4 linked regions of the Homo sapiens genome follow. The protein of the gene in region 3 interacts with the protein of the main gene of each other region in a pairwise test. Each region holds a gene or a part of one and is shown on either strand. Other genes may lie near its edges.

Region 1 (7,809 bases), on a different chromosome or scaffold from region 3:
GTGGGAGGTCGGGGGACAGGCTGCAGTGGGCTCTGGCTGCCTGCCTCAGGGAGGAGACTCTCCCAGCCCACCCGGCCCACCTCTCGCCTCCCCTGGGCTTCCCACTCGGGCACTTCCCTGACCCCTCATGACCTGGCAAGGGGCGGAGGCAGGGGCCGCCCAGCCCGGGGCCTCCCCGCTCCCAGTTCAGGGAACGCAGGAGGCTGCAGGGTAAATGGATCATGGATGGCAGCCCACGGAGCCCACGCGCACAGGCCAGCTCCACCCAGGCCAGGCTCTGGGCAGATGGCTGGGCTCCTGGAGGGGCTTTACATCTGGGCCGTGGCCTGGCCCTGAGAGTACCCCTCTGGGCCTCAGTTTTCCCACCTCTGAAATGGAGAGCGGACGGGGAGGAGGGCGGCGCTCACCGTGCTTCTGGTCCAGCAGCTCCATCTTCTCCAGCACATCCTTGCGCATCTGGGAGAAGCGGGCGCGCGCCTCCTGGCGGCAGCGCAGGATCAGGCGGTACTCATAGTTGCCGGTGCTCACCCGGTAAAGGGGCTCGCCTAGGGCCTGGGGCGGGGGTGGGACAGGAGTGCCTGCTCAGGGACGGCCTCGCACCGCACTGTGCTTTCAAAGCCACGGCTGTTCTTCATTCCTGAGACCTCATTTCTGAGACTTCAGTGTTTCTCAGAAGCACTCAGTGATAGCTTTGAAGAGAGGAAAAAACCAAACCCAAACCTCTGCCACATTCAATGAACACTGGCCACGAAATGGATCCCGACAGCAGAAAAATCAAACACTTAAAAGCGCCTCATAGGAGTGAAGAAAATCCGATTTCCCTCCAAGAGTCCCCCAGACTGAGGGAGTGGTTCCCGGCCGGGTGCCCAGCACCCCGAGGCCCAGCGAGCGGGACTGGGAAGATGGCCCTAAATCTCCAGGAACGAGAGTCCAGCCAAGTCCCCCCGGTCTCTCCCGGGTTGGCCTGAGCCACCTGCTATCCCTGGCAGACCAGGTGGGGGGAAGTACAAGCCCCCCACCCCCTCCAACACTCACAATGCAGCTGTATTCCTCGTCATCCATCTCCTTCACCTTCAGGCAGTACGACTGTGTGGGACAGGTGAGGCTGTCAGAGTGGCTACTACCCCCACCCCAGGTCCCCAGCTCCACCCCCATCACCCACACGCAGCAGGAGAGGCTGGCGCAGGTGTTCAGGGAGTCCCAGAGCGGGCAGCGGCAGGTGCTGAGGGATGACAGGGCCTGAGGCTTAGGCGGCCGAGTTGACCAAACTCAAGGCCCAAGAGATGCTCTGGGGAAAAAGGGGTCTGTCGTTAAAGGAGCTTAGGAAGACCCTTGAAAATTCACACTGCACATCAGCCTAGCAAAGGCTCTGATAAGTCCTGCAGCAAAGGAACCTTGGCTTGCTTAATAGAGCATTTTCTCTCAATTCCTTTGACTGTAGAATAATTAAATGTAAAACTCACGAACGTTCACTGACACCCATTTTATGCTCACTCACCTAGTCTAACCCATTGTTTAAAGGCAACAAATCCCAAGGGGTCAGAGTGCACACAGCGAGAGCCATGCCCGCCCCAGGCTCTCAGATGCTTCTTTGTGCAGGCGCAGCAGGGCTTTGGCTGCACCTCCCTGGGCCTCTGGGCCCACACCTGGAGCAGACATGCTGTCAGCTCTGGCTGGCCTCGCTGGCCGCAGCATGGCTGACTGAAGTGGGGCAGATCTCCAGGGTGGGCGCTTGCCCTAGCAGCCTGGGCACCTGGACTACTCACCAGGTACTCAAACTTCACGTCCAGGTACTTCTTGATGGTGAGGCGAGTGTCCGGGATGGCTTTGTTGAGGTACGTGTTCAGATCCGTCAGCATCTGGAAGAGGGTGGGTGGATGCTGAGGCTGTCACGGCAGGGGTGTGCCAGGGTGACAATGAATGGCACTGATGCGTCACCCTTGTTGGTGGACTCGACTATCAGAGCCAGATGGTGCTCCCTGATGCCTTGTCCCTCTCAAGGATGAGAAGACTAGTGCCAGGCCTAGGGCAAGCTGTGACTCAGTGGCGAGCCAGGGTCAGAAGCCAGCCCAGAGGTCAATGGCAAGGCCCAAGGGGGCACAGTGACTCACCCACAGTCCACTGTGTGGGTGACTGAGCCAGAGGCTGTACCCAGGCACAGGACTCCAGCATACGACCTTCTCTGCATGCCACACTCTCCCCTCCCCACCCTCACACGCCAGACACACACATGCTCAATAGGACCTACCGGCTTGATGGTTTTCAGAAGCCGAATGCCGAACTTCTCGATGCTGCGGTGGGCATCGGCGAACTTCACAAAAGCCTCGCTCGCAGCTGGCTGGGGCTCCCGCACCCCGATCACGGAGAACACGTCCCCAAAGGCTGCAGGACAAGTTTGCCTTGAAGGCTGCCCCTACTTGGCCCCCTAAGAGAAGCCAGGGGTTTGTTGGGGAGAAGCAGGGCAGGGGGCCTGGCAGGCTGGAAGCCAATGTCTGCACAGGGGCTACACCTCCAAGAGAGCTGGTCTAAACCCCCTGAAGGAGCTGAGTCTACACCTGGAGGAAACTGGATTGACACCTCCAAGAGCTGGTCTGTGCCCCCTAGAGTCCTGAGTGTACACACCAAGGGAGTTGGCCCTCATTCCCCAGAGGGACCAGTGAGAGAAGACTGGGTCAAGGTTTGTGGAGGTGGCGCCGCCTGAGGCAGAACACTGGTCCGAGTCTAGACACCTGGATTGGAACAACAGCTCCACCACTTGGGAGCAGTGTGGCCCTCTCCTTTGTCTGGGCTTCATTTTCTGCAGTAGCTGGGGTCAGCTGCAGTCGGCCTGCCCAGAGTTACAGGTTGTCAGAAATATAAATAAGCAAGGGCCTTGTGTACTGCCAGTGGCAGTGTGAGGAGACAGGGTGGGGCCTGTTCATCGTTGCGGCCCTTAAGAGACCAGCTGATCTAGATGTTCCCCGCAGGCCCATCGCAAATCCCAGCACCTGGGACCAGGCCCAGCCCAGAGGGAGCCTGAGGTCAGGCGCTGTGGGTCTGACCCACCTCAGCATGGGAGTGAGAGGCCCCAGGGATTGCCCACGGTCACACCACAGCTTTGGGGGATGCCATTACCCCGGTGAGTCTGCGACAGCTCATAAAAGGCCCGTAGGAGGTTCTTGGTGTGTTCCGTCATCCCTGTGGGAGAGACCGAGTGATGCGGAATGGGGACGCATGGCGGGGACCACACTGGCCCAGGGCAAGGCCTCCAATTGCCCATGCCACCCAAGGCCTCTGCTAGGCCCTGATACATGGCCTTTCCCCACCGCCCAACCACAGCCCAGGGGTAAAAGCTCAGTCCGACCCAACCCGTGAGGAGCCCCATCAGACAGGGGCGCCAGCATTTTGTAAGATGCAGGGGTACACAGCCTGCTGTGGGCTTTAGCCCTGGGACAGTGTGGGATTCCGGGGGACTCTCGCTATGTTTACAAGTGCTATTCTCTGAATTTTTATGAGTATCAGGTTTTGTTTTTTTTGAGATAGGGTCTTGCTCTATTGCCCAGACTAGAGTGCGGTGGTGTGATCTTGGCTCACTGCAACCTCTGCCTCCCTGGTTCAAGCGATTCTCATGCCTCAGCCTCTCGAGTACTGATTATAGGCACACACCATCATGCCTGGCTAATTTTTGTATTTTCAGTAGAGATGGCGTTTCACCATGTTGGCCGGGCTGGTCTCAAACTCCTGACCTTAAGTGATCCGCCCACCTCAGCCTCCCAAAGTGCTGGGATTACAGGCGTGAGCCACTGCACCAGGCCCCTGAGTTATTTTTAAATTCAGAAGAAGTATATATTCTTAAGAACTCTTAATGCCCATGGTCCTAGTATTTTGTAGGCTGGCATTCCTAGTGCCAGCACCCCTGTTGCCACTCTGCTGAGAGCATGCTCCCTGGGGTAGAGCTAGTGCCAGGACGAGGCCACCCCCCACCCACCTTTGTATAGCTCAGCGGTCCGCTCCAGCTCCTCTAGCCTCTTGACAAGCCCATCTGTCGGGATTCAAAGAAGAGGGGAGGTCAGTGGGCTCAGCAAGCCACAGGAGGCCCAGGGCCATGCTGGGGAGGGGAGAGGCAACCCCAGAGGAGAACCAGGAAGGGAAAGATCAGGGGTCCCAGGGAGGGGGATTTGGCAGCTCGGGTCAGCTGGGTTCAAAGGTGTTTTGTAAATGACTAGGCCCTCCTCATGGCCAGCGGAGGGTCCGTGCCTAGCAGGCAAAGCTCCCACACTTCTAACACAAAGCCTGCTGACAGCTGGGGAGGAAGGCTGGCAGGGGCCATAGGAATGGAGATGGAGCAGCCAGGCCTCTAGCGCAGGAAGGACATGGTCTCTGCCTCCCAAGCACACAGATGGCTCAGAAGGGAAAACGCAACTTGGGGAGGGAGGGGGAAATTCAGGAAGGCTGAGAGAGCTCACACTGGGAAGAGGCCTTGGTGATCAGTCATTGGCTTAGTGTTTCTTGAGCACCCACTGTGTGCCAGCCACCATGTCAGGCTCACTTTGAGCCAAGTCTTGCTCTCAAGGCTGAAAGCCCAGCAGAGAAGCCAGCCCAGTGGCCGGGCGATGGACAGCAGTGTGATGGTGAGGGCTGCAGGGGAGAGGTGGGGCAGTCAGGTGCTCTCTGCTCCCCAGCCTCCTGTGTTGACCTGGGTCAGGGTTTTTTAGCAGAAGAGGGGAGGAGCGGAGGCTGTGTTCAGGCCTCTCTGGGCAGGGAGGTGGCAGTGCGACAGGCTGTCGGGGAAGGAAGGGAGCAATTCAGAGGTCTTGGGGAGGCTTTGGCCACCCGGTGGCCTCCAGGCCTGGGTTCCCCAGAGCCTTAGCACCTGGCCAGCGGCAGGAAAGGAGCCATGTAAGCATCGTGTTGTTGTTTTTAGCTGGGTCATGGGACATCATGACAGCTTCAATTTTAGAAACCCTATTTAAGGCCAGGGAAATTGCAAGGTTTGGGGGGAAAAACACAACAACCAGTTCTAATTTCATCTCAACGGCTGGTAACTACAGTAACAGGGATTTATAGGCACGGCACCAGGAGGCTGAAAATAGCAGCCGCCACTTTTGTACACCATTTGGAACAAGCTCAGTCCCCACCCCCACTTCCTTAGCCAATAAAGCCCAGTGTGCCCAGCTGAGCCTACAATTTCTAGAAGTATTTATATCTACCCCACAGGCACACTGCAGAGCTGCTGCTATTTTTAAACTCGGACTGGCGACGGTAGGAGGGGGACTGAGTGTTTCGCTGGCCACCCCAGGGAGGGAAAGTGTGTGCGCATGTGTGCATGCGTGTGTAAATGTGCATGTACACGCCTCCCCCCTCGCCTGCGCAGCCACCACGAAGGGAGGACCTGCAGAGGCAAGGGCAGCAGCACCACCTCCTGGACAAAGGAGGCAGGAGGTGGGCCGCGAGAGTGCTGGGGTGAGGGGTAAGGGGCTGAGGGCAGGGGCAGAGGCACCTCCCCACACTAAGTCTATTTTCCCATCTGTGACCTGAGGGGCACTGGCTAAGACAGCCCAGCTGACAGCTGTGGACCCTCCGGGAGCTGGAGAGGCCTCTGGGGGTACAGAGATGGTGACTTCTCAGTTCCACGGGCAGAGGCCAGGGTCAGACCCGCGGGACCCACAGCAGCTTGGTGGGCAGCCATGGTGCCCCCCACTCTTCTCAGCCTGGGCTTGAGTCCCCGGGGCCCCAGCTGGGTGGGAAGGGACTCACCATTGCACAGGATGGCCCGGCTCAGGCCCAGAGCATCTGCGGTCCCTGAACTCATGTTCTCCACCAGCCGGTGCTTGACTTTCTTCAACACTGAGCGGGGGACAAAGGACCTGGTGAGTCTGTGGCTGCCCAGAGGCCATCCCTGCCCCCAGCCTTACCTCCATGCACAGGGAGCACCCCACAGGGGGCAGAAGGGCTGCTGGGGGTGGCTGTGAAGTGGGGAATGTCCAGTGGGGAGGTCCTAGGCCCCTGCCCTATTCCCTCTGCTTCACAGAGGTGCTGGCAGCCTGGGCAGTTAAACATGAAGCGCTTCGCCCAGGGCCTGCTACGCAACATCAGCTGCTGGTTGCTGAGAGCCCAGTGCTGCCCGGGCTCAGCACAGGCTAATGGAAGCCAAGGAGGCCTCTTCCCCTCCTCTGTGTCACATCAGGACCTAGGGTGTCACATAAAGGGGAGGGGGAGAAGAGGGGCCCCTGGGCTGGTTATGTGAAAGTAATGGGCACCATCAATGACCATGAAGCTCGGACCCCAGACTCAGTTACTGCATCTGACCAGCTTAGTCCTAGGAAGGGGACTTAGTCCTGTGTTGGAACCAGAGGGTTTCGGAGGGAGCTCCCAGATAGATCCAGCCTGCCCTTAGCCCCTTGGCCTCTGGCCCTAGGGTGTATGAAGGGGATTGCTGGGCTCCAGAGCTGAGACCTAGGTGTGCGCTCACCAGGGGCTGCAGCGCCCTCTCTGGGTCTCAGGCTTTGATCCATAATGTGAAGCGGCCGGTCCAGAGGACTCGAAGCTGCTGTCCAGCTCTTGAGTCTTAAAGTTTCTACAGAACCGAGGCTCAGCCCCTCTAACAGGAGGGAACTTGTCCCAGGGCGCAGACCCTCTGCCCAATGCCTGAGGTCCAGTTCAGATCCAGAGTCCCCCTGGGAGCTGATGGCAGGAGAGGCCAGGGAGGAGTGCGCTGTGCTAGAGGGCATGAGGCGCCAGGCCAGGGTTAGGCTGCTCTCCCTTTATGAAGAGTGAGGCCCTGGGCCATGGAAGCCGAGGCGCTGGCCTGCAAAGGACAACCCTAGGGTAGCAAGTCCCCAGAGGAGATGGCAGAAGCAGGGAGGTAGGGGTGAAACGCGGGGGAGTGAGAAACCAGGGACAGAGTACAAGAACAGATGCAGGGAGAGCACCGGGAGGCCTCCCAGGCCTTTCAGATTTGCTTGGTCAGAGGTCAGAGCCCACAGCCATGTAACTCTGGATTCTCCTGTCATAAAGGGGAGGGCAGGGCTGGCTGTGGCACTTCTCCTTTGGGCCAGGGCCCATCCAGGGAGGCTGCTGGACACCCGTAACTGCTCTGACCAGCTTACCAATGTCCAGGGACATGCCCTGCTTGGGGTCCGCCTGCAGCTTGTTGTAGTGGATGGTCACCTCCCCCTGGAAGAGCAGCACACACAGACTAGTGAGCGAGGCTCCACACCCTGAGCCCCTTCCCAGCCAAGACTGTTCTGGACTGAGACTCCTGAGCCCAAGGCCGGGTGCGGTGGCTCACACCTGTAATCCCAACAATTTGGGAGGCTGAGGCAGGCAGATCACTTGAGGTCAGGAGTTTGAGACCAGCTTGGGCAACATGGCAAAACCCCATCTCTATTAAAAATACAAAAATTAGCTGGGCGTAGTGGCGCGTGCCTGTAATCCCAGCTGCTCAGGAGGCTGAGGCAAAGAATCACTTGAACCTGGGAGGCGGAGGTTGCAGTGAGCTGAGATCACACCATTGCACTCCAGCCTGGATGACAGAATGAGATTCTGTCTCAAAAAAAAAAAAAAAAAAAAGAATCCTAAGCCCCAGTAAGGGCCAGGCTGAGCGCTGTGACATGGCCCCACCTTGTGACCCTGTCTGATCCCAGGCCCCTCCCTTCCTACTCTACATCCAAGCCCTGGGGAATCAGTGGGGACAGGGCCGGCACCGGGCCCACAGCCTGGCGGTCTCTGATGTCTTGTGCTTCGGCCAGGTCAGGCTCTCCTTCTTCCCTCCCCACGCAAACCACACTCCAAGCCTTTGCCGTGTCATTTCCCTACACTGATTATTCC
Region 2 (8,141 bases), on a different chromosome or scaffold from region 3:
ACACCCCTTCACCATTGGACAAATGAGGCCCATCCATCAGACGCTTGCTTTGGTTTTGACACTACATGGGAGCTTTCTGAGGTGGGAAGACAGAGGTCAGCACCCACAGCTTCCTAGGAATGCCCGGGGCCTCCTCCTCTCCTGTGGGGTCCTGAGTGACAAGGAGCTGAACAGCTCGGTGCTGCCTGTATCTCTGCTTCCCCCTCAGCTGAGGATGGAAGCACTGCGGCCGCTGGGGTAGGGGCCTGTTGGGGAGGGGATCAGGGCCTGGGGTCCTGGTCAAGAGATAATGAAAGATAGTCGGAGACTGTAGAAACTCGCAGAGGTAAGCGGCTGGAGACCTGGAAGTCAAGGGCAATCCTAGGAGGCCTGGGGGTTCTCACCTCGTGCAGGCTGAGCTGCTTGCCCTCCCGCCGCTTAGAGTCGAAACGGCCATAGATGATGCTGTATTTGCGGATCTCCTCTTCCTTCTGGCTGTCATTATCATCCATCTCAAAGATGTGCCCAACGCTCCGTGCCAGCTTCTTATTCAGCTTTAGCAGGGATGTGACCTCCCCAGCATCCCCCCTTGGGAAGCTCCGGAAGATCCTCTCCACACTTTCCACCACCATGCGTACCATCTCTGGCTCCAGTCGGTCTGGACCACCCCCAGTCCCACCTGCTGCCAGCCCCCCAGCCCCAGTCCCCTCAGGGACTCCTCCCCCTGCAGGGGGGGAGAAGGGGGGCGAGCCAGCCTCCTCTTCTCCTCCTGCCCCAACGTCCGACTCTGGAGTGCTCCGGCCTGGCCAGATCCGGGGGTCCCCTGCCCCAGGTCCCCCAGGCAGTGGTGATAGCTTCTCTCCAAGTTCAAGGGGGCTCTTGGGGCTAAAACTGCGGGCACTGCCTGCCTTTTCCCCTGGGCTGCCATGCCCATTGCTCATGCTCCCTTTCCGGGTACCCGCAGTCTCAGAGATCTTGAAGAGCGGGATGCTGGAGACGGGAACAGCAGGCACTGGTTGACTGAAGAGCCCTGGATTGGTGGCCCACTCTCTCAGTGCCTTCTGCAGGCGCCGGACATGGAGGGGCTTGGTGGCCATGCCCACAAGTGCCATGATCTCCAGAAACTCCTCCTCACCCGCCTCACACAGCTGCTGCACGTCGTCCCCTCCCTGCTGGATGAAGGTCTCATAGTAGGAAAGGAGGTTGGCGCGCTGCAGGACCCGGTACAGCTGCAGCTCCCCCAGCGTCCGAGGCAGTGCCATGGCTCGGGCACTGGGCCTGAGAAGGAGGGGCACAAGAGAGAGGCAGTCGGTGCAAGTCCCCCTACTGGGTACCAACCCACACTAACAATTGTTCCCTCTTTCCTGCCTGCTTTTCTTCCCCTCCCTCATTTGGATGCTATCCTGCCCAGTGCCCAGGTCTGAGTACAGACTCTCAGAATCAGGCACTGCTCAGAGGCATGGACAAGCCAGTGCCGTCCTAGACTGGCCCGAAGCCCCAAAAGTCAGTGGCCTGTGTCTGTAGGAGTCGAAGCGTCTTACAACCTTATCTTCAGCTTTTATCTTTTTGGTCTGGGGCAAGAAGAACTTGAGCGCTGAGGCTGACCAGCACCGACCTGGGATGGCTGGACCTCCCTCTCCCCCAAAACACAATCCTCACCTTCCCCTCTAAACACTCAGCAGTCTCAACACTGAAGTGAAGTCACCCATACTAAAGTGAATGTAGGAGCCCAGTCTCCCCCACAGTGGACGCTGCTGGCCAGCTTCATTCCCTGTGAAGGGGCCACAGCCCCAGGTGGCTAAAAGGGAGGGTGTGGCACCTTCCCTGGCTTTCCCACTCAGTGAGCCAGGTGGTGCCTTACTCTTCTCCGCTCAGCTTTTCCCAGGGGTTAAGCATTTATTTATTTATTTATTTATTTATTTATTTGAGACGGAGTCTCGCTCTGTCACCCAGGCTGGAGTGCAGTGGCGCTGTCACTGCAACCTCCGCCTCCCGGGTTCAAGCGATTCTCCTGCCTCAGCCTCCTGAGTAGCTGAGATTACAGGCGCCCGCCACCATGCCCGGCTAATTTTTGTATTTTTAGTAGAAACGGGGTTTCACCATGTTGGTCAGGCTGGGCTCGAATTCCTGACCTCGTGATCCACCCGCCTCAGCCTCCCAAAGTGCTGGGATTACAGGCCTGAGCCACCGGGCCCGCCCGGCCTGGTTAAGCATTCTTAACGCACGCTTCCTCTCTCCCCTCAGAACCTCTCCACCCTTCCAGGCTGCCCAGTGCTCCTCAGTGGCCCCTCTCCTAGCAGTGACACTCCCCACTTCCTCGGTCAGCCTTTTCCTTCAGCTCAGGGGCCGTGGCAGGGGGAGGGGCGCAATTGTTCTGCTCCGGGGCCGTTCCGCCCACACACACTCCCACAGTGGTAGCGTCTGTAGGCGAAAACCGCCCAGGGGCTCCCGCCTACTCTCCTCTCCCATATTTTCCACCCGCATCTTCAAGTGGAGTGGGGGAGCGGCTCAAGGCCTCTTGATGAAGGGGCTGCACACTGAAACTCCCCTCCCCGCTCTGTGAATAAAGGGACAGATATGGGAAGGAACGCCTAAGGCCTCCCTGCCTCCCTCGTCACCCCCCCTTTCCCCCGCTGATGCTCCTTTAACTCAAAGGCACCGGGGGCCCGCGCGCTCCGTGCCAACGAGGGACTGAGGCAACTGAGCGTCCCCCCACCTTCCGCACTGATGCCAGCTCGAGCTCCAGGGCATCCCCTGGTGCTTGGAGGCTCCCACATTCTTTGCAGGGGGCTCTTAGGCCAGATGGAGCCCACAGAGTAAACCAGGAATGGAGATTTGGGTACTACTCTTTCATATCCAGCTTCATCAGATGCTTGCCTGCTCCCAGGGCCCCCTAATTCGAAGACGCACCCCCTTTTCCATCAGTCTCCACCCCCCACCCCCGTCCTGCTTCCCCACGTCCTCCCCTCGACCTCCGCCCTCTGGACCCCATTCCCAAGTCCAGCTCCACCCATCTCCACTCCCCGCTGCCTCCCTTTGCCCACTAACTTGAGTCTGGGCTGCAGGGTCCGGCGGGCGCTGTCCCCTCCGCCCGGCGGCTGCTCGGCTGTGGGGGAAGGCGCTCTGTGCATGGACGGCCGGAGATCACCCGGGCTGCCCTTCTCGGTGCCCGGCGCTCGGCGCCTGCTGCGTGCTGCCCTCTTCCCCGCGCACGATGCCGTGTCCACCGCTGTCCAGGCTCTGTCCCTCCCTCCACGTCTTCTCTCTCCGAGCCTCCGCGCCTCTGTCTGTGCCTCTGCCCCCCCACCCTCCCCGGCTGCGCTTGCCGCCTCTCCGCGCCTCCGCCCCCGCAGGACGCACAGGGAGCGAGGCCCGGAGCTGCGCTGGCTGCCGGGCTGGCGGGCGGAGGGCGTGGGCAGAGCCGGGGGCGGGGGTGGGGGCGGGGGCCGGGGAGGCGGGCGCTGGGGCCTCTCGGCCGCGGAGACGCCGCGGCTTAGAGACTGGGAGAGGCGGAGACGGGGGGGGAGGGGGTGTGGAGCAGGAGGCGGGGGCGGGGATTCAGAGCCGGGGCGCCGAATTGGGGACCGAGGTGACCGAGGCCCGGCTGTGCAGGGCGGGCTTGGGGACCCAGCGGGCGGGGCGAGGTCGTTCTGTGCCGCCCACGCCGGATGCACAGCCGGCCCTCTTGGCGCCCACGTACCCACGTGAGCGCCCCGCCGGCGACATTCCTTCTCTCCCCCACCCCTCCGAGCTGAGAGAGGAGTTTCACAACCACGCACAAGTACACAAAGACACAGAAGCGCACGGACGTGCACACGCGCCTAAACAACTACGGGGACGCCCGTTGCCCATACTCAGGCCTTGTGGTGCTGGACGTGTGAATGTTAGCAGTGAGCCGGGAAAAGTTAGCGAAGGCTGGGCTGTGCGGCTTCTCCTGTGCGTGCATCTGACTCCCGTATAGTGTGCACTTAAGGCGGGCCTGAGAGCGTGGGGCTCTGCAGGGATCTCCTAGATATCCCCGCGCCCCTCCTCAGCCCCAATGGAATAATCTGAGGGGGTCGCTCTCAGAAACCCAGGCCTCCATGCTAGCCTGGAAAGTTTGGGAAACAGGAATGGGAGGGTTATGCTGCACGCCACCACTTAGGTGCGCGTGTTGATTAGACGCGTCGGCTTTTGTCAGCGCGTAGGTCAGGCAGGGATTCCTCCACTTGTCCTCTGTTTGCTGAGGATGAGGCCCTGCCTGGGAATTTTGTGTGACAAAGACGATACCCTTCCTGGGGCCGTCTATTAGGGACCTCGCCCGAGAGTCTAGTGGAAGATGAGTAAGAGGTCGGGAGCCTACGACGTGACTTCCTGCGGCGGAGCTGGAAGGAGGAGCGCCTTGAAGGAGCTTAGCCCCCGCCTCTGCAACCCACCACCGTCTCCCCCTTTGGTTTCTCCTAGCCCCATCTGGTTCGCATTGCACTCCCGCCCACGGCTGGGAGGGCTGTTGGGGGAGGCGGGGGCTCTAAGGGCCCGGCCCATAGACTCTAAGCCCCAGGGAAAGGAGGGGGGGTGGGGGCCGGGGAAAGCGAGCGGACTGGCCACAGGTGAGGTTTCCCCTAGTCCGGAATCTCAGCCCCGCCCCGCCTCTCTGTCCGCACTTCTGAGGGGCTGGGGTGGGGCATGGCGGGGCGTGGAGGCCGTGGACCGGGGCTGGTTTTACAATGTGGCCTAGCGAGGAGACCTTTCCGCCTTGTGGGGTCCGGGGAGAAGGAGCGCGTTGTTGGTGGGAGGATTTCAGTTGCTCAGGTCCTCTTCTCCAACCTATTAAGCGCCAAACACAGTGGGGGTGGTGGGAACGAGCAGAGTCCCGTCTCCCAGTCCCCCGCCCCGCAACTGGAGGGTGCGGCTAGACGGGCTCCCCTGGGGACGCTCCCGACCCCGTACGGGGTGTGGGCGACCCCTCCCCCCCCACCTCAGGTTATTTTGGATCCCGGGCTGCCAGCCGCTGGCCCCGGGTTTCCACGTGCCCCCTCCCTCCCCCAGCCCACGCTCCCCGTGACGCACATCCTCCGCCCACGCAGCCTCTGCTCGAGGCGCCCCCCTCCCTCCCACCCCGGCCCCCTTGGGGCGGCGCTGAGCCTTAGGATCTGGAGGGAGACGCCCGCCCAAGGAGGAGGCGGAGTAGGGCGTGAGCAAGTGAGCGGCAACCTACTGGGCGCGGGGCGCCCGGGTCCCGGTCCTGATCCGGGAAAGAGGGGGAGGGAGGAGCCGATTTTGAGCTCTCCGCTCCCGGGTCCTGGGAGAGGGGGTGCTCGGCCAGAGAGGGACGAGGGAAGAGAAATTCCGCAGAAGGGGCCTGCCCACTCCCCTAGGGGAGCCAGCGGGGGTCCGGGTGCGAACCCGTGTGTGAGAGTGAAACTACCGGGTGTTTGTGTCTTTGTGCCCTTGTTTCTCAAGATTGTCGTGAGATTCGGATGAGAGAATGTACGGGAAAACTCTCTAAATTGTAGAATGCTAAGCATATTTAAGACGCTACTGCCAGTTTGTGTCTCTGTACCCGAGATTATGTATTTATATGTTTCTTTATATCCACTTGTATATCTGTGTTCCTCTCTCTCTCTAGGTTTGTGTATGAGCCCCTATTTAAAAAATCATTGACTTGTCAGGGCCCGCCAGAGGCCCAGAGCGCCCCCGCAGCCCGCAGCCAGAGCTGCCGAGATGTCTGTTCTTCCCGCCCACTCCTGCCACCCCCAACTCCCCTCCTACTCCCTTCCGTTGAGAACAAGGAATTTCCAGCCTGTAGCAAAGGGAAAGAGGCAAAGACAAAGACGGAGACCATGGGAAACTATAGAAAAACATAAAGAGACAGGTGTGTGTGTGGGGGGGGGGGAGTGGTGACAAAAAGGGAGTGGGGACAAATACAAAAATTTTCATTTGTTTCCTGCATGGGACCTGTTCTCCCCTGTGTCCCCTTGGCTCACTCAAAGAAGGACCACTTCTGTGCCTGACTCACCTGCTCTCCCCATCCCCAGTGCTCTCAAAGACAGACCAGAGGAACTGATCTCGTGATAAAAAGGATTAATATTCTTTTATCTGTGCTGGTCTCCTCCGTGAAGGGAAACAGTATCCTCAGTCCTAGTTTTCCAAGAAAAGGGGAAACGATTGCGAGGAAAGGGAGGAAAGTGGGCGGAAGAGGAGTGCAGAGACTGTCGTCCCTACGCGCACGTGTAGATTTTCATCTAGCAGATTGCTCTGCTCACTCCTCCCCCAACGTCTCCACTGGGCCAGATCCGACTCACTCAGCAAGGTTTGGCTCACCCTCTCCTTCCTGGACCCCTTCCACTCCTCCAGGCAGAATTAATTCCTCCCACCCCTCGGTGGCCTCCTCATTGCTCTTTGTACACATTTCCAATTATAGTTGCTTGTTTCAGCCGAAATCCAGGACCTCTCCAGGATAGGCCTGTTATCTGGTGGACCCTCTGAAATGAATAAATTGATCCTATTCACAGGCCTGTGCAACTTTGAAAGGGCACATGACACAGATTTTACTCCCAAAGGGGCTGAGCCTGGGCAAAACTGTTTAAGTGAAGACATTTGTTTTCCATATCTCTTTCCCTTGTAAAGTTTCCAGTGAGTCCCACAAATCTGGCTCCTTGGCCTTCTAAAATGTCCACCATTCTGGTAAATTAATTCACACTCAGATGCTAAAGGTAGTAGGCCGAAGTCCTGGCTGGTAATAGAAAAGTATAAAGTAATGATCCCTTTTTTCTCTTTCAGTAACATGGCAGAATTTATCATCTAAGGAATGTTGTCCTTCAAGTTAGTTATTTTACAAGAAATGTTTCACTCCTGAAAGACAGATAATCCTAACCACTGCCTTTAAGGAGCTCACAGACTAATAGGGGAAATAGACCTATAAACGAATAATTACAACATAGTGCAATAATATGGGTACAACAATGACAGAAGTATAAGAGGGTGAGTGATCTGTTCTGCTTGGAGTTGTGAGGGGCCTTGGTTTAGACAGGCATCCAAAGGAGGTGATGATGCAGTCAGTATGAGATTTCCAGGAGTGGCCAGGGCGGTGGCTCACACCTGTAATCATAGCACTTCAGGAGGCTGAGGTGGGAGGAACATTTGAGCCCAGAAGTTGAAGGCTGCAGTGAGCCTTGATGGCGCCACTGCATCCCTGCACCACAGAGCAAAAAGTGAGTCTCAAAAACAAAAAACAAAAACAAAAACAAAAATTCTAGGAGGAAGGGAAGTCAAGTCAGAGAGGCCAGAAAGTGCATTTCCATGGAGGTGGAGGTATGAAACAGAGTGATATGTTTCAGAAACTATAAAAGGTTGTTCATTATTGCTGGGTGGTGGGTGGAGCTGGTTAGAAACGAGCCTAGGGAGGTGTACAGGTACATTACATTAAAAATATTTTGGACCAGTGCTTTTCAAAGTATGGTTAAGGACCAATTTTTAAAACATTTCCAATCTATTATTGTCCACTACTTTTGTAGAATGCACTAAAAATGAATTATTCAAAAAACAAAATAAACTACCATTTTGTTAGATTCAATAAATATAAAATTTCTCTGTCAAATTCCTATAAAACTTTCTAAATGCTTACACTTAATTTCTGAAATTGTTTCATTACAGATTGGTGACAAACATTGAATAACATTATTATAGTTATTTGTGTCTTTGCCTCTGAGTTTTAGATCATACTAAGGATGTTGGACTTCATCCTGTGGTGTTACTGGAACCATAAAGACTCTGGAAACAAAGACTCATGGCATGGTCAGATCTGCACTTAGGAGCAGAGTGGAGGAAGGATTTATGGCTGCAAAAACAGTAGGAAGGTCAGCTTGAAAAATACTGAAGGACCCTCTCAGTTGAAAGATGGCAAGGCACTGGCATGGGGGGAAAGAACAGATTCAAAATATAGAAAATAAGATCGACAGGACTTGATTGATTGGCTGAGGGGTTGAGAGGAGAGAATGAGGGTTTAGGGTGACTCTCAGGCTCCTAGCTTGGGTGACTGAGTATGTGGAATGGAGTGTTCCTTCTCAAAACTCTGGAATAGCCTTCATCAAATATTCGTGGCCTGCAAATCCTTTATCCACAATTCCTAAATTTAAAAAAATTATGAAAACCAAAAGCTTGACCGGGTACTGTGGTTTATG
Region 3 (7,809 bases):
CCATGCCTTTAGGTGCCTATACATCATGCTATCATAGGATTTCTAGGGATAAGCCGAGTGCCGTGGCAGATGCCTGTAATCCCAGCACTTTAGGAGGCTGAGGGGGGTGGATCATGAGGTCACAAGTTTGAGACCAGCCTGGCTAACGTAGTGAAAGCCCATCTCTACTAAAAATACAAAAATTAGGTGGGCGTGGTGGAGGGAACCTATAGGCCCAGCTACTTGGGAGGCTGAGGCAAGAGAATCACTTGAACCTGGGAGGCGGAGGTTGCAGTGAGCCGAGACCATGCCATTGCACTTCAGCCTGGGTGACAGAGTGAGACTCTGTCTCAAAAAAAAAAAAAAAAAAAAATTTAGGGATAATATCTAAGCCCATATAACCTGCTGTTATAAAAGGTAACATTTAGGGATTGAGATTTTTTTTTTTTTTTTTTTTTTTTTTTGAGACGGAGTCTCGCTCTGTCACCAGGCTGGAGTGCAGTGGTGCAATCTCGGCTCACTGCAACCTATGCCTCCCAGGTTTAACGAATTCTCCTGCCTCAGCCTCCCAAGCAGCTGGGACTACAGGCACCCACCACTATGCTTGGGTAATTTTTGTATTTTTAGTAGAGACAGGGTTTCACCATATTGTCCAGGGTGGTCTTGAACTCCTGACCTTGTAAGCCACCCACCTCAGCCTCCCAAAGTGCTGGGATTACAGGCCTGAGCCAAAACACCCAGCTGAGATTCTTCATATAGCTGATTATCTTGCCATTTCTAACTTACAAGCTTTATCCACATTTCTTAACCTTTTGTTTCACTAAATGGGACAGGAAGTTTTAACTCTTGTATCCATGAAGCATCTTAGTAAAATAACAGATATTCCATTTGCAAATTATGCTCCCCAAAAAACACAAACACATATGTAAAAAATGTTATAAAGACATTAAGTGTCCACTCAATAACTTTGATTCAAACTATCTTCATGTTCTTCACTTCACAAGATAAAGCTCTTAAAATGGACTTTGTGAGGTTCCATGTGTTTGGTCAGTCATGAGAGGAAGAATAATTCAGAGTGAGAGGAAACAAGAGAGATTCTAGGCAGCCCTCAGGGAAGCTGAGGAGGTGGCTCCCTGCCTCCGGGTCCCTCAGAATGTCCCATCTCCCTGTCAGTATCAGTGTCCCAGATAATCTTCTTCTGACTGGGACATTTCCCAATTTGGGAACAGTGGTTACTTGCCAAATTCACATTTACGGCCAAAACTGTGGCTACAGTGTCGACATTCATGCAAGTGGGGAAATGGGCATGTGGCCCCTGAAAAAAGATTCTGGATTCCATAATCTCACCTTGCTGGCAAGAAACTACCATTTCAGCAGAAAGTGCAATGACAGTGTCTGCACAGGGACTGGAGATTATCTCCAGAAAAGAGCTTGGAGTGAGGAAATTAGTTAATGTGGATGAATGACGTTACCCATGGAGAATGAAGTAAGTAGCTAGAAGACAAAAGCCTCAGAACACATAAATCTCAACGGGTACTGAGTAGAGGACTCGGAGCTCTGAGGTAATTGGAGCTCATGGCTATCCCAGAACTTGGATAACATAAAGTTCTTGTTTCTACAAAGTGTGTATCCTTTCCATATGTGAGAACTCTGAGGAAATACAAACTTGGAACAAAAGAAATAGTAAGGTAATCTTAGAAAGATGTTGAATAGAAAGCAAGCTACGGTGACATCTTAACTGTTTCACTGCCCAGCAATCTATACGTATTGTCACTTGGGGACACTTATGATTCCACATGAAGTGGATAACCAGCTCATAGCTCTTGTGGTACTGAAAACCAAGTATTTGGCCGGGCATGGTGTGGTGTACTCGTAATCTCAGCTCCTTGGGAGGCTGAGGTAGGAGAATCACTTGAACCTGGGAGGCCCAAGTTGCAGTGAGCCAAGATTGCACCACTGCACTCCAGCCTGGGTGACAGAATGAGACTCCGTTCCAATGCGAAGTCTCTTAAGACCAAGGAGAGCAGACATTCTGATGTTTCCCAGATTGACAGCACTCATAAGGCCTTTCTCCAGTATGAACTCTCCTGTGTTTAATGAGACGGGATGTTTCAGCAAACGATTTCCCATATTCACTGCACTCATAAGGCCTTTCTCCTGTGTGAACTCTGATGATGAAGGAGGGTAGAGCTTCGCTGAAATGTTTTTCCACATTTGGTACATTCATAAGGCCTTTCTCCAGTGTGAATTCTCCTGTGTTTAATGAGACTGGAACATTCAGCAAAGGATTTTCCACATTCACTGCACTTATAAGGCTTTTGTCCAGAATGAACTCTTTTATGAACATGAAGCGCAGAGCTGGAAAGAAATGATTTCCCACATTCATTGCATTCATACGGCCTTTCTCCAGTGTGAATCCTCTGATGTATAGTCACGCAGTTCTTATTACCAAATAATTTCCCACATACCTCACACGCATATGGCCTTTCTCCAGTGTGAACTCTCTCATGAACGAGAAGATGATACTTCCTGTTAAATAATTTCCCACATTCCCTACAATTGTAAGGTCTTTCCCCAGTGTGAAGTCTCTGGTGTTCAGTGAGGTGGGATCTGTACCTAAATGATTTCCCACATTCCTTGCACTCATAGGGCCTTTCTCCAGTATGACCTCGCTGATGTTGAACGAGGTTGCCCTTTTGACCAAAAGATTTTCCACATTCTCCACACTTGTAAGGCCTTTCTCCAGTGTGAACACGCTGATGGTTAATAAAGCAGAACTTCTGACGAAAAGATTTCCCACATTCCCCACAGTGATAAGCTCTCTCTCCAGTGTGACCTTGCTGATGTTGAATGAGGTTACCCTTTTGACCAAAAGATTTCCCATATTCTCTACACTCATAAGGCCTTTCTCCAGTGTGAACACGCTGATGGCTAATAAGGCTGCCCTTCTGACTAAAAGATTTCCCGCACTCCTCACAGGGATAAGCTGTCTTTCCAGTGTGGACTCGCTGATGTTGAATAAGGCTGCTCTTTCGACTATAAGATTTCCCACACTCTCCACAATCATAAGGTCCTTTTGCAGTGTGATCTCGCTGATGATTACTGAAGCTGACATATCTGCTAAAGGATTTTCCACAATCACTGCACACATAACATCCATCTCTAGTGAAAAGTTTCTGGTGTGGAATAACTGAGTGTTTGGTGCTGAAGGCTTTTGTGCGTTTTCCACAACTGTAATTAGTTTTTCCCTCCTGAAAGGGTGGGCCATGCATAGTTTCACTGTCTGTCTTCTCTACAGCAGCTGCTTCTTGGCACAATCCTGAACTGGGCAGAACGTCCTTCCCAAACTCGCGGAAGACAAATGGCTCCTGTGACACCCTGAGCTTACGTTTCTTTACAAACGATGCTTCTCTGACACTCTTTCTGTAGAATTTCTCTCCAATATGCTGCTTCTGGTGCTGATGAAGGTATGCAGTGTCATCCAAGTTTTTTCCACATGCTCCACTCCTGTTCAGCTTCTGCTTGTGATGAGTTTCCTGGTGGTCAGCAAAGTGAAAAACATCCTCCAAGATGAGGCCACACATTTCACAGGGGTGAGCCTTCTTAGGAGAAACACCTGCCCTAGGAGTCCTGCTCTGAGACTCTCTTTGTACAGAAATTCTCTGCTTACAAGGTGCCTCCTCATCTTTTGATCCACACCAACAACCTGAGAGCAAGAAAATGCTGGTCAAGTGCAAAGTACCTCTGACGGGAAGGCACAGCCCACCCACAAGTACGTCTCACAAATTGAGGAATTAATCTATAGAAATATTTGCAGGAACACAATGTTGGCTTCAAGTTGAAGATGGGGCTGCTGGCCGGGCGCAGTGGCTCACGCCTGTAATCCCAGCACTTTGGGAGGCTGAGGCGGGTGGATCACCTGAGGTCAGAAGTTCGAGACCAGCGTGACCAACATGGTGAAAACCCATCTCTACTAAAAATACAAAAATTAGCTGGATGTGGTGGTGAGCGCCTGTAATCCCAGCCACTCGGGAGGCTGAGGCAGGAGAATCATTTGAACCCGGGAGGTGGAGGTTTGCATTGAGCCATGATCGCACCACTGCACTGCAGCCTGGATAACAGAGCGAGACTCCATCTCAAAATAATAATAATAATAATAAAAAGAAGAATGAGCTGCCTAGCATTACTGGGCTATAAAGGTCACAGAATCCAGGAGGCCTCATGATGTAAAGAGCACAAGCATACAGGCAACACAGGGAGTAGAGGCAGGGTCCACAGCTCCTTCCTCTAAACACAAGTTGTGTACGGGACCTTATCTCCTAATGACATGTGAGTGCTATGTAGAAGCATATGGACTGGGCGCGGTGGCTCATGCCTGTAATCCCAGCACTTTGCAAGGGTGAGGCAAGTGGATAACCTGAGTTCAGTAGTTGGAGACGAGCCTGGCTAACACGGTGAAACCCTGTGTCTACTAAAAAAAGAAAAAATTAGCTAGGTGTGGTGGTGCAGGCCTGTAATCCCAGCTACTTGGGCGGCTGAGGCAGGAAAATCACTTCAACCTGGGAAGCAGAGGTTGCAATGAGCCAAGATTGTGCCATTGCACTCCAGCTTGGGCAACAAGAGCGAAACTCCATCTCAAAAAATATAAATATAGAAGCATATGTCAAGACCAAGAAAACATGAGTACAACACAGCAGAGGGTGGTCATGGATGGTTTAACATAGGGCATACACTTCCTAATATGTAATCGATACACCAATATCAGAGACAAGTGCAGATGAAAGCACAAGAAAAATGGGTGAGATGTGAGTATTAGTGCTGGGGTGGATATCACAGTAGAAGTGAAAAGGTACAGAACTAACACGTGTGAAACTCTCAACAATGGGGAGAAAAAGACAAATAGTGTGTGCCTACTCATATTGCCACAAAAACACTTGGCAAATATAAATGGTTTCTGGTATGATTTGGATAAACCCCTGAAGTCATGCCCTCCCCCAGCATGGCACTCCTGAGGGACAGGCTCCCTTTGAGCCTATCGTGATGAGCCTGAATTGAACCACATCTTGTCAAACATGGAGGTCTCTCCATCTCACACCCAGTACATAGGACCCGACGATGTAACTATGAAGGGAGAGACAGCAGAGATGAACAGCCAACACTAGCTCAGGACAACTAAGCACCTGACAGCCCACAGGAGAGTAAGGTAAGTATTACAAAAGAATTCCTAAGCAGGGTCTTGCAAGAAGAGTCTATGGTCTATGGTCTATGTAGGTAGTGACAATGTCAATGAAGGCAATTCTTGGCACAGGGAGGCACAAAGCATTGTCAGATAGAGGAAGGAAGTGTTAATAGAACCTGGGCACACAAGAGCTACCGATTTGGACAGTCACCTGACAGCCAGAGAGCAGGCAAAGTGGATACACTTAGGTGCCTATTAGACTCCTGACTCTGACTCCTTCCCTGGGAGCCTGGAGCAAAGCAGGTGTTGGAGGTGCTTAAGGAAAGGAAAAGGCAATACACACAACTTACATAGAGAAGTGTAGAAGGAACCTGTGTCCAGGCTCCTTAAGTGAGAAAGACAGTCCTGTCAATGAAAAACAGGGGAACAGTAACACTAGCTCAGGTCACAAAGGTGAGCGTGAGCAACTTACCCAGCGAGGATATGAGAGCCAGGTTCTCTAGCATCACATCACGGTACAAGCACCTCTGAGCCTCACTAAGAAGACACCACTCCTCCTGGGAAAAGTTCACAGCCACATCTTCAAAGGTCACAGTGCCCTGCTATGATAGTGACAGATGAAACCACAAACAGCCCCTCTGCTGAGGTACCACAACCCACCTCTCCCACACACCCACACTTGCCCATCCTCCTCCCAAGGTCCCCAACATAGTGTTGAAACTATGTCCACTAGTGCCTTTGTCTCTTCATGGGCCCACTGGTCAATTGCCATCAGCAATAAGCAGTAAGTGGACAAATAGGTATCCATGCTGAGGTCCTGACATAAAAAGGTCCATCCCCTTCTGAATAGCGATATCCAAGCTCATGTAAAGCCCAGGGCAGCTGCCTGAGCCCATTGGACAAACTCCCTCTCTAAATATACATCATTCTTTATACTGCAAAGACACATCCCCATGGCCACCCCTACCTGAGTTTTCCCTACCATCAGCCTCTCTCTGGCATCCCCACAAATAGAACTTTGTTTTTTGGGGTTTTTTTTGAGACATAGTCTAGCTCTGTCACCCAGGCTGGAGTGCAGTGGCATGATCTTGGCTCTTTGCAGCCTCCGCCTCCTGGGTTCAAGTGATTCTCGTGCCTCAGCCTCCCAAGTAGCCGGGATTACAGCCACGCACCACTATACCCGGCTAATTTTTGTATTTTTTTTTTTGGTAGAGAGGGGGTTTCACCATGTTGGCCAGGCTGGTCTTGAGCTCCTGGTCTCAAGTGATCCATCCGCCTTGGCCTCCAAAAGTGAGATTACAGGGGTGGGTCACTGCACCCAGCCCCCACAAATAAAATTATTTCACAAGATGAAGAGGGTATAACGGCCCATGATTCCCTTGGGAATATGCAATGGTTTGTTTCCATAACTCTGCTGGTAGGGATGGAATTGAAACCCACCACAAAATATAACAACCTGGAACCCTGCCTTATCACCTTGATAAAACGGGCTGTTAGGCTAGGATACATTATTCAAGAGAGCAGAGTGGGAATGAGATTTGTACTCACACCTTTTAAGGTTGTCCCACTTTCACAAGATGTCAAAGTGACACATCATATTGGGCCTTCAATTCTGGCCTTATACCAAAATGTGGATAAGCATCCAGACTATGCTTGACAAATACAAATAGGATCCAATATTAACACAGAATTTCCATGGTTTACAATAGCAGTGGTAATCCCAAATCATCCTGTGAACGTCTCCCGGAATGACTCCATAGCCACACAGAACCACATATGGCTTCAGATATCCATGGACCTATTTCACTTTTGTGCTGCACCAGCTGAGACCTCAGCTGTAGCAACCCTCCTCTGTCCATCTAATGCTGTTTAAAGCCCAGCCCCTGGATTTGTGAACCAAACCACATCTACTATCACAGATGAGCATATTTTTCACTGCCCACATGCACCAAGCTGAATGAAACTCTCCAGGCACTCCCAAAGTCATCTCAAAACGTTTATGAATCCAGACAGTGATAAATAGTTACAACTTGGCACCAACTCAGGCAGAAGTGTCATCTTCCTTACTCCTATGCTTCTGCATGCATCTATCTCATCTATTCTCTCCTCGGATGTCTATGTCCCCTTCCAAACTCTACTGTCTGATACATCCTGCCATGATGTTCACTCACACCCTCTCAGGTGTTTAGGAAGCCCAATAACATCACTCAGGGACGTAAGTAAGAGATCCACTCCTCAGCCTGTAGTCACACCTTCCTGGCCCCTGAAAAGATTTACCACCAAAATCTGAAGCATGTCCTCCTAAATGGACCCATAACTAACTTACTGAAGTTCACCCATTAGCTTTCAAATATTGGATGTCTCCAGTATCAACACCCTCCCAGATACCCCATCCTGTATGTCTAGTTATCCATTTAATGCCACCATTTATTGGTCACTGACTCTTCATATGGCCAAAACAACACTCTTGATATCCACAGTCAATATTATGTCAATACCAACTTCATGTCAGCTGATGCAGCGTCCATGGTTACAGCTGCTAAGATCAAAAACCTTGGGCTCATGCCTGATTCCTCTTTCATGCCCTTATCATCCGCATTAGAAAACCTAGCTGTCTGTCAGGCGTGATGGCTCATGTCTGTAATCCCAGC
Region 4 (7,728 bases), on a different chromosome or scaffold from region 3:
AACTTGGAGGTCCCCAAAGCCTTCCAGCCTCACTTGCACTGGGCAGTGTTGACCACTCACAAGGCAAGGAGAAGTTCAGAGCAGCCCCAAGGGCAGTGTGGAGTGCCAGGGGTCTGAGTGGCATCAGGGACCCCATGTGTAACCCGTCACTGTCTGAGGGAGGCCTGCACCTCAGGCCTGTGGATAGCAGGCAAGGGCTTGGCAGCACCAGGAGCACAGAGCCCACCTCAGCCTCAAGCTGGGGTAAAAACGTGGGCCTCAGCCTCGAGATGCAGCCAGTTACCCAAGAGCTGCTGCACCTGTGAAAAGCACTCTGTCTTTCAGGTTAAAAGAAGGAGATAGGAATTTATGAAACGCAGAGAAAATGGCACACAGGTTTTTACTACACGAGGAAAAAGTCACCAAATAGAGTTTAAACGACTAAAGAGCTTTACTGGTGAGTAACCTAAAAGAATCTATGGGATGTCCCCTTGGGATATAATACTGTGGAAGGCACCCAAGGAAAGTAACGCTGCTCTGGTCTGAATGTCTGTGTCCTCCCCAAATCCCCATGCTGAAATCCTCATCCCTCAGGTGATGGCGTTAGGAGGCAGGACCCTTGGGAGGTGATGAGGTTGTGAGGGTGGAACTCTCAAGAACGGAATCAGTGTCCTTACACAAAGGCCCCAGAGACACCCTCACTTCTTCCACCATGTGAGGACACAGTGAGAAGACACCATCTATGAACCAGGAAACGCCCTCACCAGACAGGGAATCTGCCAGTTCCTTCATCTTGGACTTCTAGCCTCTAAAAAATAATGAGCAACTCTCAGATCAGAACAAGAGGACCACAGAAAATTACAGATGTGTTCTAAAAAAGAAAAAAAAAATAGCACTTTGGGAGGCCAAGGCGGGAGAACCGCTTAAGGTCAGGAGTTTGAGACCAGCCTGGGCAACACAGCAAGACCCCCACCTCTAGAAAAGCATTTTAAAATTAACCAGGTGTGGTAGCACGTGCCTATAGTCCCAGAGGCTGAGGTGGGAGGATCGCCTGAGGCCAGTTCGAGCTGCAGTGAGCTACAATCATGCCATTGCACTTCAGCCTGGGTAATGAAGTGAGACTCTGTCTCTTGGGAAAAAAAAAAGAAGTCTGATGCTGCCATCACCTACAGGTAAAATGTGAGGAGAAAAAGAGGCTTCCACTGGCTTTGGCTAGATTCTATTTGAGAAATACAAACACATCCTAAAAAAAATACCCTGAAGCTCACTTAAGTCCAGAGGCCCCTCCTCCAACCAACCAGCTGAGCAGTTCAGAGGCCTGGCCCACTTGGCCTGGTGGTCCCTTTGTCTAGAGCCCTGAGCCCACAGTCCCCTCATTCCAGGCTGCCCCAGGTCCCCCCACTTGCCTTCCACACTGCAGCTGCTGACTCTGCCTGGCCATGCAGGTCCCGGGCGTCATTCAAGTCCTTTCTCATGATTTCCACAGACCCCTTGTTCTCCTGTAAAGAAAAGAAGGTCACCAGGGGTGGGCAGAAGCTCTGGGTCCCCCAACCCAGCCCAGTACTGAGGGACATCACCCCAGCTGACTGCACACAGTCTGACCATCCCAGAGATAACCTCGAAGCCCGGTTGTCTAGGGCAGGAACGCACAGGCAGTCAAAAGGTTTCTTGGGCTTCACACCTATTCAGAAGGATCTGGGTGCTGGGGCTAAGGGGACTGTCTAGGTGGGTTTAGGAGTTCTGTGTCTGTAAGTGGCCCTGTTCAGTGTGAGTTCGGCCTGTACCAAAGGTCTGCACAGCCTGCCCTACACCCTGCCCTGCCTGAGCCGGATGGGGGTCGCTCTGCCCGGTGGCAGGACCCCCAATGCAGGAGGAGCACCCAGGGACACAGTCTGGCTGGCTTCCCCTCCCCTGTATTGAAGAGCAGGACCCCAGGCTGGCTGTTGTCTCCTATTCTGTGTCCCACAACCAACCCGCCATGGGCAAGGCTCCAGACTCCCGGACCCGCTGCTGCCAGACTCTCAGAGCGGGTTTCTGAAAGATGGGAGAGGGGACAGGGGGTGCAGGCGAGGGCTGGGTGGCCCGGGGAGCAGACGAGAAGGTGGGCCAGGCCTGTGGACACAGTGGAATACAGAGGGGCAAGAGGCGTGATGTCTCCCCCAAGGGAAGAGTGAGTGGAGGAGTCAATCTGTAGGAACTAGAGGGGGTCTATGAGGGCGAGACAGGGCACAGCTAGTGATGGGACCACAAAGATGGGCGCTGGTGGGGGAAGGACTTCGTAGAAGGTAGGGGGTGGGGAGATAAGGCACCGCCCAGCAGGGGACACCAAGACGGGGAAGGGGACCAGACTCCGAAGAGACGCAGGAAATATGGGGAGGCAAGCCGCAGGAGGGAGGGGCCCAGCACACGCTGGAGAGGGGACCCGTGGCGGTGAGGGGAGGGGGACAATCCGGGGACGGGGACAATCCGGGGACAGGAACAGTGGAGACGGGAAGGGCCCAGGGCTCAGGGGGACCGGGGCGGGGGCGGAGAGGCGCAGGGCACCGTCCGGGGTGGGGCACGGGACCCCGCGGCGCGCACCTTGCCGCGCAGCGCCTTCCTCCAGCGCGGTTCCCACTCGGGCGGCTCGGGGCCCGCAGCCATACGGCAGGCGGCGCAGAGCGGGCCGGCGTCGGCGCGGCACAGCAGCTGCAGCGCGGCCTCGCTGGCCGGGCCGTCGCGCGCGGGCGCCGCGGCCGCCTCCTCGAGCGCCAGAAGGCGGCGGCTGAGCGGGGGCCTGCCGGGCTCCACGGCGCGCTGCCAGCAGTCGTCGGCGCACTCGGGGCACGGGAAGGGCCCGTCCTCCTCGGCCCAGAAGCGCACCACGCACGCCCGACAGAAGCGGTGGCCGCAGTCGGCGCGCACCGGTTCCCGGGGCGCGCGCTGGCACAGGGCGCAGGCGGCCTCGGCGGGGCCCGCAGGGAGCGCCAGGGCTGCGGGCGGCGGGGCCGGCAAGGGCGCAGGAGCGGCTGGGGAGGGCCGGAGACCTAGACGGCCGGCGACCGGACGGAGACCAGCAACAGGACGAAGACGCCAACGCCGGGGACGCGCACGGGGCGGGGTCGGGGACGCGCACGGGGCGGGGTCCGGACCGCGGAGCGCTCTGCCGATAAGATCCTGGCAGCGGTGTGCTGCAGCCGGAGGTCCTGGCCGCGCTGCGCTCCACAGACAAGATCCTGGCAGCAGTGTACTGCATCCTTAGGTCCTGGCCGCGGTGGGCTTCTCCGCCTGGATCCTAGCGGCGGTGCGCTCCTCCGCCTTGATTTTGGCAACTATGCTCTCCACCTGCAAGGTCCTGGCAGCGGCGCACGTCACCGCGCAAGTCCTGGCAGCTGCGCGCTTCACTCTACTGCCTGCGGACCGGCCCAAGTCGTATCCTGAAATCTTACTGGGCTGTCCCTTCCTACTTCAGTAACTCCTGCGAAAGAGGGAAACAAAGTTTTATTTTTACTTGAAGGTTCCATTTTTAAAAGGTTGTTTTTGTAAGCTGCTAGGATCTGAGCTGCGCGTACCCCCGCGGTAGCTCGCCCGCGTGGGCTGGGGACGGGGCGGGAAATGGCCTGCGTGGGCCTCCTCCGCTGCTCTCATCCTGCACGGACCCGCCCTGCATGGGCACGCCCTGCGTGCACGGGCCTGCCCGCGTGGACGTGCCCTGCGTGCACCCTTCCTTCAGGGACCCGCCCTTGAACGGCCCTCCGGACGTGGACACTCGTATACGCCCACCCTGCGTGGGATCTCCCTGCGTGGACCCATCCCGCTGAGCCTCTTCTCGCGCAGCCTCCCTCTGGCCCCCTGGGAAGCTACCCTGGTTGTCCGCTGTCTCCTGGCTGGGGGGAGCTCTCATTGATTCTGTGATGATGCATGACAGAAGAGCATTTGTTAGCTTTGCTTTGCTTTTCTTTCTTTTTTGAGACAGCCTCGCTCTGTTGCCAGGCAGGCTTGAGTGCAGTGGCGCGATCTCGGCTCACTGCAACCTCCGCGTCCCGGGTTCAAGCGATTCTCCTGCCTCAGCCCCCCGAGTAGCCGGTATTGCAGGCGCCTGCCACGACGCCCGGCTAATTTTTGTATTTTTAGTACAGACGGGGTTTCACCATGTTGGCCAGGCTGGCCTCGAACTCCTGACCTCGTAATCCACCCGCCTCTGCCTCCCAAAGTGCTGGGATTACAGGCGTGAGCCACTACACCCGGCCGTTAGCTTTTCTTTAAAAAATAAATTTAAAGGAAAGAAATAAGCCTTTGGGAAGAGCAATCTTGTGTTTTTGTTTTTTAATTATTTTGAAAACAAGCAAGCATGGTTAAAATAAGATTGTGCAAGTTTTGCATTTTAAAAAATTAATCTGGGCCGGGCGCCGTGGCTCACGTCTCTAATCCCAGCACTTTGCGAGGCCGAGGCGAGCGGATCACAAGGTCAAGATATGAGACCATCCTGGCTCATGGTGAAACCCCGTCTCTACTAAAAATACACAAATTAGCCGGGCGTGGTGGCGCATGCCTGTAATCCCAGCTACTCAGGAGGCTGAGGCAGGAGAATCACTTGAACCAGGGAGTCGGAGGTTGCGGTGAGCCAAGATCGTGCCACTGCACTCTAGCCTGGCGACAGAGCGAGACTCTGTCTTAAAAAACAAAAACAAAAAAAAATTTTTATAAATCTGTATTCCAAGCAAGCGCAGGATCTAATGAGGTATTTTTGTCTTTGTGAAGATTTTTTAAATCGACTTGGAAATGCACTAGATGCCCGTGGGAAACATGAATAGTAAACCGAGGTTATTTCTGTGTAGTAAAGATTAGAGGCTTCCAGCCGAGCCTTGCTGATATTGTTGAGTCAACTAGGAACTTGCTGGAGAGAAAAGTAAAAAATATAAAAAATGAGCAAACTTCATAATGAACTAATCTTGTGAATGAGAAAATATCAAAAATTATAATTAAAGGCAAATAGCCAAATTAGGAACATTGTAACCACAAATATACAAAGAGTTTATAAAATTAGGTAAGGAAAAGCATGATGGAAAATACACCTTGTCATGGGATTTTTCAAATCACAAAAAAAAAAGCACACAAATGATTGAACACACATGAGAAAAAAATGTACACTCTGCCCAGTTAAGAAAGAGGAAAATAAAACGAGACTCTCTTTCTTTCCACTATTAAGTAAGCAGACCAAACAAAAAAAAGGAAACTTGGCCGGGAGCCGTGGCTCAGGCCTGTAAACACAGCACTTTGGGAGGCCGAGGCGGGTGAATCATCTGAGGTCAGGAGTTCAAGACCAGCCTGGCCAACATAGTGAAACCCTATCTCTACTAAAAATACAAAAATTAGGCTGGATGTGGTGGCACACGCCTGTAATCCCAGCACTTTGGGAGGCTGAGGCAGGTGGATCACAAGATCAAGAGATCGAGACCATCCTGGCCAACATGGTGAAACCCCGTCTCTACTAAAAATACAAAAATTAGTTGGGCATGGTGGTGCACGCCTGTGGTCCCAGCTACTTGAGAGGCTGAGGCAGGAGAATAGCTGGAACCGGGAGACGAAGGTTGCAGTGAGCCGAGATCATGCCACTACACTCCAACCTGGCGACAGAGCAAGACTCCCTCAGTTTCAAAAAAAAAAAAAAAATACAAAAATTAGCCAGGCATGGTGGCACGTGCCTGTAATCCCAGCTATTTGGGTGGCTGAGGCAGGAGAATCGCTTGAACCTGGGCGGTGGAGGTTGCAGTGAGCCGAGATCACACCACTGCACTCCAGCCTGGGCAACAGAGTGAAACTCCATTTCAAAAAAACAAAAAACAGAAAACAAACAAACAAAAAAAACACTTGATTCTGTGAATACTGCTTCTTGTAATCCACGTAGCAGTATCGATTAAGGATTTTCTGATTGGAATTCCTTTTCTTAGAAAACAAACTATAAAAATAACAGGAAATGAAAATAATAAAAATTGGGTTGTAAAAAATTGGGCTGTTTTGTTTTGTTTAGAAATGTGGCTGGGAGAGGTGGCTCATGCCTGTTAATCCCAGCACTTTGGGAGGCTGAGGTGAGTGGATAGCTTGAGCCCAGTAGTTCAACACCAGCCTGGGGAACATGGCAAGAACCTGTCTGTACAGAAAATTTTTAAAATTTAGCTGGGCGTGGTGGCACGCACCTGTGGACCCAACTACTTGGGAGGCTGAGGTGGGAGGATCACCCGAGCACAGGAGATTGAGCCTGTAGTGAGCCGTGATCATGCCACTGCACTCCAGCCTGGGAAATGAGAGAATTTTTTAAGACCTTGTCTTAAAAAAAAGAAAGAGAGAGAGAGAGAGAGAGAGAGGTGGGGGCGGGGGGTGGGGGAGAGAAGGAAGGAGTGGAGGGAGAGAGGAAGGAAGGAAGAAAGGGAAAAGAAAAAGAAGAAAGGAAGGAAAGAAAGAAAAGGAAGGAAGGAAGGAGAAAAAGAAGGAAGGAAAGAAAGAGAGAAAGGAAGGGAGGGAGGGAGGAAGGGAGAGGAAGAAAGAGAAGAAAGAAAGAGAAATGTATGTCATATCACTATTCATTTTGGAGAAAAAAAAAAAAACCTTGAAGGTCCAATACTAGGGGCATGGCTTAGCAAATGGTAGCAGCCATGAACTTGCACATGTGTGCATTAGAGACTTTTGGAAGTATACACTGGCAAAGATTGTTGCCTGAAAGCCTCTCTCCCTTACCACCAGCAGAATCCACATTGTGTGGTGCCAGCATCCCCACTTCCCAAGACAGGGTGGCTGGTGTAGGTGCCAAGGGGAACCCTTGGTCCTCTCAAATTTTGATGAAAAATTGCAAAAGGCTGGTCGCGGTGGCTCACGCCTGTAATCCCAGCACTTTGGGAGGCCGAGGCTGGCAGATCACAAGGCCAGGAGATGGAGACCATCCTGGCCAACACGGTGAAACCCCATCTCTACTGAAAATACAAAAATTAGCTGGGCATGGTGCTGCATGCCTGTAGTCCCAGCTACTCGGGAGGCTGAGGCAGGAGAATCGCTTGAACCCAGGAGACGGAGGCTACAGTGAGCTGACATAGCATCACTGCACTCCAGCCTGGGTGACAGAGCCAGACTCTGTCTCAAAAAAAAAAAAAAAAGAAAGAAAAATTGCAAAAGGCAGATCAATTGGAGAAAAGGCAGACACATTTATTTACTGTGTCTATACAAACCTAAAGATATGGGGGAAATCGTCCTTTTTTTTTTTTTTTTTGAGACGGAGTCTTGCTCTGTCACCCAGGCTGGAGTGCAGTGGCGCGATCTCGGCTCGCTGCAACCTCCGCCTCCCGGGTTCAAGCGATTCTCCTGCCTCAGCCTCCCGAGTAGCTGGACTACAGGCACGTGCCATACCGCCCGACTAAGTTTTTGTATTTTTAGTAGAGACGGGGGTTCACCGTGTTAGCCAGGATGGTCTCGATCTCCTGACCTTGTGATCCGCCCACTTCGGCCTCCCAAAGTTCTGGGATTAGAGGCGTGAGCCACCATGCCTGGCCAAGATATGAGGGAAATCATCCATTTTTATGCTTAGGTTCCACAAGGTATGGACAGCCATGCAGAAATAGAATTGGGCAAATAGGGTCGGAGCTAATGAGAAGAGCCTAAGTGGGGACACCCAGCCAGGCCTGTCTGTCTAGATTCTTATGGCCTCTCTGAGCAGTCTTCCTTCCTTCCTTCCTTCCATCCAGGACCCTCTCTGGAGTGAGGGTCTTAAGATCTACAGTC

The links.
Region 1: the proteins of ZNF417 (region 3) and PICK1 interact in binary tests that used the Homo sapiens proteins (3 or more experiments, as listed by UniProt).
Region 2: the proteins of ZNF417 (region 3) and NAB2 interact in binary tests that used the Homo sapiens proteins (3 or more experiments, as listed by UniProt).
Region 4: the proteins of ZNF417 (region 3) and RNF187 interact in binary tests that used the Homo sapiens proteins (3 or more experiments, as listed by UniProt).

The regions. Positions count from the first base shown.
Region 1 is NC_000022.11:38,067,050-38,074,858, reverse strand, and holds part of PICK1 (PRKCA-binding protein), read right to left. Parts: intron 7,156-7,809; coding exon 7,089-7,155; intron 6,788-7,088; exon of another isoform or gene 6,711-6,787; coding exon of another isoform or gene 6,452-6,710; intron 5,827-6,451; coding exon 5,737-5,826; intron 4,022-5,736; coding exon 3,968-4,021; intron 3,178-3,967; coding exon 3,115-3,177; intron 2,383-3,114; coding exon 2,249-2,382; intron 1,860-2,248; coding exon 1,767-1,859; intron 1,087-1,766; coding exon 1,036-1,086; intron 553-1,035; coding exon 408-552; intron 1-407. UniProt on the Homo sapiens protein: Probable adapter protein that bind to and organize the subcellular localization of a variety of membrane proteins containing some PDZ recognition sequence.
Region 2 is NC_000012.12:57,084,241-57,092,381, reverse strand, and holds the start of NAB2 (NGFI-A-binding protein 2), read right to left. Parts: upstream 3,269-8,141; 5' UTR 3,111-3,268; coding exon 3,028-3,110; intron 1,258-3,027; coding exon 384-1,257; intron 1-383. Other genes in the region: NEMP1 (nuclear envelope integral membrane protein 1), read left to right, coding at 4,298-4,568. UniProt on the Homo sapiens protein: Acts as a transcriptional repressor for zinc finger transcription factors EGR1 and EGR2. Isoform 2 lacks repression ability.
Region 3 is NC_000019.10:57,906,430-57,914,238, forward strand, and holds part of ZNF417 (zinc finger protein 417), read right to left. Parts: intron 5,761-7,809; coding exon 5,631-5,760; intron 3,686-5,630; coding exon 2,121-3,685; 3' UTR 1-2,120. UniProt on the Homo sapiens protein: May be involved in transcriptional regulation.
Region 4 is NC_000001.11:228,482,710-228,490,437, reverse strand, and holds the start of RNF187 (E3 ubiquitin-protein ligase RNF187), read right to left. Parts: upstream 3,057-7,728; 5' UTR 2,950-3,056; coding exon 2,560-2,949; intron 1,479-2,559; coding exon 1,386-1,478; intron 1-1,385.